Regions from separate parts of the Homo sapiens genome. Here region 1 is linked to region 2. The links come from fine-mapping of genetic effects on gene expression. A gene starts in region 2. The other region holds a variant in brackets. All regions are shown on one strand. Distances are from middle to middle. Region 1 has its middle 32 kb from the start of MOCS2-DT. Region 2 holds the start of MOCS2 (molybdenum cofactor synthesis 2).

Region 1 (3,018 bases), 33 kb before region 2:
AAGTCTCTTTGTAGGTCACTAAGGACTTGCTTTATGAATCTGGGTTCTCCTGTATTGGGTGCATATATATTTAGGATAGTTAGCTCTTCTTGTCAAATTGATCCCTTTACCATTATGTAATGGCCTTCTTTGTCTCTTTTGATCTTTGTTGGTTTAAAGTCTGTTTTATCAGAGACTAGGATTGCAACCCCTGCCTTTTTTTGTTTTCCATTTGCTTGGTAGATCTTCCTCCATCCTTTCATTTTGAGCCTATGTATGCCTCTGTATGTGAGATGGGTTTCCTGAATACAGCACACTGATGGGTCTTGACTCTTTATCCAATTTATCAGTCTGTGTCTTTTAATTGGAGCATTTAGCCCATTTACATTTAAGGTTAATATTGTTATGTGTGAATTTGATCCTGTCATTATGATGTTAGCTGGTTATTTTGCTCATTAGTTGATGCAGTTTCTTCATAGCCTTGATGGTCTTTAAAATTTGGCATGTTTTTGCAGTGGATGGTACCGGTTGTTCCTTTCCATGTTTAGTGCTTCCTTCAGGAGCTCTTTTAGGGCAGGCCTGGTGGTGACAAAATCTCTCAGCATTTGCTTGTCCATAAAGTATTTTATTTCTCCTTCACTTATGAAGCTTAGTTTGGCTGGACATGAAATTCTGGGTTGAAAATTCTTTTCTTTAAGAATGTTGAATATTGGCCCCCACTCTCTTCTGGCTTGTAGACTTTCTGCCGAGAGATCCGCTGTTAGTCTGATGGGCTTCCCTTTGTGGGTAACCCGACCTTTCTCTCTGGCTGCCCTTCACATTTTTTCCTTCATTTCAACTTTGGTGAATCTGACAATTATGTGTCTTGGAGTTGCTCTTCTCGAGGAGTATCTTTGTGGCGTTCTCTGTATTTCCTGAATCTGAATGTTGGCCTGCCTTGCTAGATTGGGGAAGTTCTCCTGGACTATATCCTGCAGAGTGTTTTCCAACTTGGTTCCATTCTCCCCGTCACTTTCTGGTACACCAATCAGATGCAGATTTGGTCTTTTCACATAGTCCCATATTTCTTGGAGGCTTTGCTCATTTTCTTTTTATTCTTTTTTCTCTAAACTTCCCTTCTCGCTTCATTTCATTCATTTCATCTTCCATCACTGATACCCTTTCTTCCAGTTGATCGCATCGGCTCCTGAGGCTTCTGCATTCTTCATGTAGTTCTCTAGCCTTGGCTTTCAGCTCCAGCAGCTCCTTTAAGCACTTCCCTGTATTGGTTATTCTAGTTATACATTCATCTAAATTTTTTTCAATGTTTTCAACTTCTTTGCCTTTGGTTTGAATTTCCTCTTGTAGCTCGGAGTATTTTGATCATCTGAAGCCTTCTTCTCTCAACTCGTCAAAGTCATTCTCCGTCCAGCTTTGTTCTGTTGCTGGTGAGGAACTGCGTTCCTTTGGAGGAGGAGAGGCGCTCTGCTT[T/C]TTAGAGTTTCCAGTTTTTCTGCTCTGTTTTTTCCCCATCTTTGTGGTTTTATCTACTTTTGGTCTTTGATGATGGTGATGTACAGATGGGTTTTTGGTGTGGATGTCCTTTCTGTTTGTTAGTTTTCCTTCTAACAGACAGGACCCTCAGCTGCAGGTCTGTTGGAGTTTGCTAGAGGTCCACTCCAGACCCTGTTTTCCTGGGTATCAGCAGCAGTGTCTGCAGAACCATGGATTTTCACGATCCACGAATGCTGCTGTCTGATCGTTCCTCTGGAAGTTTTGTCTCAGAGCAGTACCCTGCTGTGTGAGGTGTCAGTCTACCCCTACTGGGGGGTGCCTCCCAGCTAGGCTGCTCGGGGGTCAGGGGTCAGGGACCCACTTGAGGAGGCAGTCTGCCCTTTCTCAGATCTCCAGCTGCATGCTGGGAGAACCACTGCTCTCCTCAAAGCTGTCAGACAGGGACATTTAAGTCTGCAGAGGTTACTGCTGTCTTTTTGTTTGTCTGTGCCCTGCCCCCAGAGGTGGCGCCTGCAGAGGCAGGCAGGCCTCCTTGAGCTGTGGTGGGCTCCACCCAGTTTGAGCTTCCAGGCTGCTTTGTTTACCTAAGCGAGCCTGGGCAATGGCGGGTGCCCTCCCCCAGCCTCGCTGCTGCCTTGCTGTTTGATCTCAGAGTGCTGTGCTAGCAATAAGCGAGACTCCATGGGCGTATGACCCTCCGAGTCAGGTGCGGGATATAATCTCCTGGTGCGCAGTTTCCTAAGCCCATCGTAAAAGTGCAGTATTAGGTTGGGAGTGGCCCAATTTTCCAGGTGCCGTCTGTCACCCCTTTCCTTGACCAGGAAAGGGAACTCCCTGATCCCTTGCACTTCCTGAGTGTGGCAATGCCTCGCCCTGCTTCGGCTGGCGCATGGTGCGCTGCACCCACTGTCCTGTGCCCACTGTCTGGCACTCTCTAGTGAGATGAACCCAGTACCTCAGATGGAAATGTAGAAATCACCTGTCTTCTCTGTTGCTCAGGCTGGGAGCTGTAGAATGGAGCTCTTCCTATTGGGCCATCTTGGCTCCTCCGCCCCTGAAATATTTCTTCTGGAATAGATGAATTTAAAATACAGCTTTACCTTTTCTGTTTTTCTTAACTGGAGCCCAAGTGCAGGGTAAATTATGTTAAGATGTTTTGTGTAGCATCATGAATGCTCTTCCTTCTTCAACCACTTAGGACAGGTCTGGGGAGAGTTCAAGTGATTCTCCTGCCTCAGCCTCCTGAGTAGCTGGGATTACAGGCACCTGCCACCATGCCCAGCTAATTTTTGTATTTTTACTAGAGAAGGGGTTTCACCATATTGGCCAGGCTGGTCTCGAACTCCTGACCTCAGGCGATCTGTTTGCCTTGGCCTTCCAAGGTTCTTGGGATTACAGGTGTGAGCCACCACGCCCGGCCCATATTATTTTCTTAATGGGGTAAAGTGTTTCAGAAAAATCACTACTCCCAGCCACTATAAAATTTTTTATTTTGCTTTCTTAAAACTGTCCAAAAAGGAGATGAAATACCCAGCATCAATCCAACTT
Region 2 (2,756 bases):
TCCCACTCTTGTCATTTACTGCCACCATTCTAGCAGATTTACCTTCTCAGCATCTTCTCACTCCCCAGGTGACACAACCACTTTCCCCTTCCACCCTTGAAATGTAACACAGATCCTTAGTATTACAGGGAATTATCATTCATATTTAAAACTCTCCTACCCAGGACTGTGAGCTCCAAGGAAAGGGACGTGTAACTTACATCCACTTAACGACGCAAGCAATTTAAAGCCAAGAGTTCTTGTTGGCAAGAATTGGGAAAGTTGGACGGACAGTATACAATTACCGAGCAGCCAATAAACAGGAAAAGTCATACAGTTCGAATGTTCTGACCAGGCGGATATTCTGTCTTTAAGAAACACTAATCATATACCTGGGAAAGAAAAAAATCTTGGGCCCCTTCAAACTGGGAATTACTCAGGGCAAATCTGCCTCCTATTCTATCCAAGTCACCTCTTTTGCTGACAAAGAATAGATGCATATTCTGATTGCCTCCTTTAGAAAGACTTATCAGAAACTCAAAAGAATGCTACTGTCTATTACCTACCTGGAAGCCCCCAGTTGGGGGGGGCGGGGCTTGCTTTTAACGGTCTCCGCCTTTCTGGAAGGAACTAATGTACTTTTTACATATTGATTGATGTCTCCTGTCTCCCCAAAATGTATAAAACCAAGCTGTGCCCTGACCACCTTGGGCACATGTCCTCAGGACTTCCTGAGGCTGTGTCACGGGCATGTCCTCAACGTTGGCAAAATAAACTTTCTAAGTTAACTGAGACCTGTCTCAAATTTTCGAGGTTCACATACCGTAGGTAAAAGTGTCAGAAGCCTAAAGGTGAGCCAGTGGAAAAGCCTGAAGACCCCTGCAAGGTTATTAGCTAAGCCTCCATAACGCAGGCGGCAAGTGTCCAGGAGTCTGGCGTCTGCTCGCCTGCACCACGACCTCCCTCCTGGGGAGAAGGACATGCATGGTAAGCCATTTCTCCATTTCCATACTGATTGCTTCCTCTCACCACCACGGCCCATCTGCGAAGCAAAACTAATCCTGGCGTGGAACAGGCCGCCTGAGGGAAACAGCTAGAGCCCGGCGCGGGGCGGAGCTGGTTGTGCGCATGCTCCGTGCAGGCGCAGGCGGGGGCTGAGCGCCGTCGGGTTACGCCTGCGCTCCGGGTGAGCCCGCGCCTGCGCCTTTGCGGCCGTGATTCGGTCCCGCTGTCCTAGGCGGGATGGTGCCGCTGTGCCAGGTAAGGGTGGCGGGTGTGCGTGCGGGCCTGGGTGCGGAGCCCTCCTCGACGTGTCTCTCCCGCCCTTTCCCTCCACATACCCAGCCTTGGTCAGTCGGACCTCCCCACTAGCCCCCAACCTGGCCGGCGTCTTGGGTTCGGGGGCGCCCCCGCCCCCGCCCCCGGGCCCTTCCTGTCTCCGGGCTTTACTGCGACTGCCCCAGCAGAAGTCGGGTCCTCTCCGAGAACTCTTGTCAGCTCACGGCAGCAAGGACGGACTCGTTCTGAAGGCGCCTCCACCTTTTATGACCACCTCTTTCCCAGATTATTCGTTTTGATGAAGCTAAAATTTTAATCTAAAAAGAAATGCACCTCATGGAGAATTCTTGTGAAGAACTGTGCTTCATCTGTGGATTTCTACACCCTTGATCATTTGCAAACCTGTAATTATTTCGTAAAGAGTTGTTTGCACGGAGTGACAGGTGCCTATTTTACTTCGTCGGATCCCTTACATACCAGGCTGCTGGCACAAGTTTGTTCTAGCAAATTCCAGTCTGTCGTGTGTTTCAAACCTACTTGCTTCTGTAAATGTCAGATTTACTATGTTGCATAACTTAATCCTTAGCGTCTGGGGACGATGTTATACAGACCGGAATCTAAGGTCATTTGACAACCGTGAGAAACAGGTTTTTCGCTTATTTATTCATTTATTTTATTTGTGTAACTCATCTCTTGACTCAAACATTTGTTCTTTGCTTACATATTTATAAAAGGTGCTATACTTTTATGTCAATTAAGGCAGGCTTAACATGTTTTCCTAGAAGATAAATACTTAGGATTTTAATGATGGCACACTTAAGTTTGTAAAACTAAAAGGCATCCAGAAATTAGTCTGAATTGTATTTAAAACAACAAGTTTTCAGAATTTGAACTTGTAGGTATACTGAAATTTTTTACGGGTTATTTAATTTTCTTTATAAAATTTGTCTTTGATTAAAGCAATACATTTGGAAAATGAGAAAACTGCTCAACATTGACAGTCAGAAAACGAGTATGAGTTGTTATTAAAAGCATTTTCTTTACTTTCAGGTTGAAGTATTGTATTTTGCAAAAAGTGCTGAAATAACAGGAGTTCGTTCAGAGACCATTTCTGTGCCTCAAGAAATAAAAGCGTTGCAGCTGTGGAAGGAGATAGAAACTCGACATCCTGGGTAGTTAAAAATTTGTAGAATGCATATGAGTAACACTTAGATATTTTCAAAATACATAAATGATAAAAGTAAAAAGGTTAATTTCGATTTCCGTGCTTAATGTCAAAAAGAATCGTTAGTTGTATTTTTTTTGGAACACCTGAAAAACTCTAAATGTGCACCGTATTTTAAGAAAGGTTAAAGATATTTTACCCCAAAACACAGTGAACCGCAGAGGGACATGATTATATTCTCTTTGATAATTTACAAAACACTGCACATGTCACTTCTGCAATTTTATAACATTAAATGAAATTGTTACAAATTCTGTTAAAAATGTGTGCTTTA

What was found. PIP is the estimated chance that this variant, and not a neighbour inherited with it, causes the effect. A credible set is the group of variants that fine-mapping cannot tell apart.
Region 1: its variant is the best candidate, but not a certain one, in a credible set for the expression of MOCS2 in lung (TOPMed, PIP 0.51).

The regions. Positions count from the first base shown.
Region 1 is chr5:53,140,572-53,143,589 of GRCh38, reverse strand. No RefSeq gene overlaps it. Among named protein-coding and RNA genes, the nearest start is that of MOCS2-DT, 32 kb to the right of the region's middle. The variant T/C (reference allele first, on the strand shown) is at 1,450.
Region 2 is chr5:53,108,195-53,110,950 of GRCh38, reverse strand. MOCS2 (molybdenum cofactor synthesis 2) reads left to right here and starts at 1,194. Exons shown (of 7, transcript NM_004531.5): 1 at 1,194-1,700; 2 at 2,308-2,429. It overlaps MOCS2-DT (MOCS2 divergent transcript), which reads right to left and starts at 1,109. Exons shown (of 2, transcript NR_104654.1): 1 at 803-1,109. RefSeq lists a silencer at 1,166-1,455.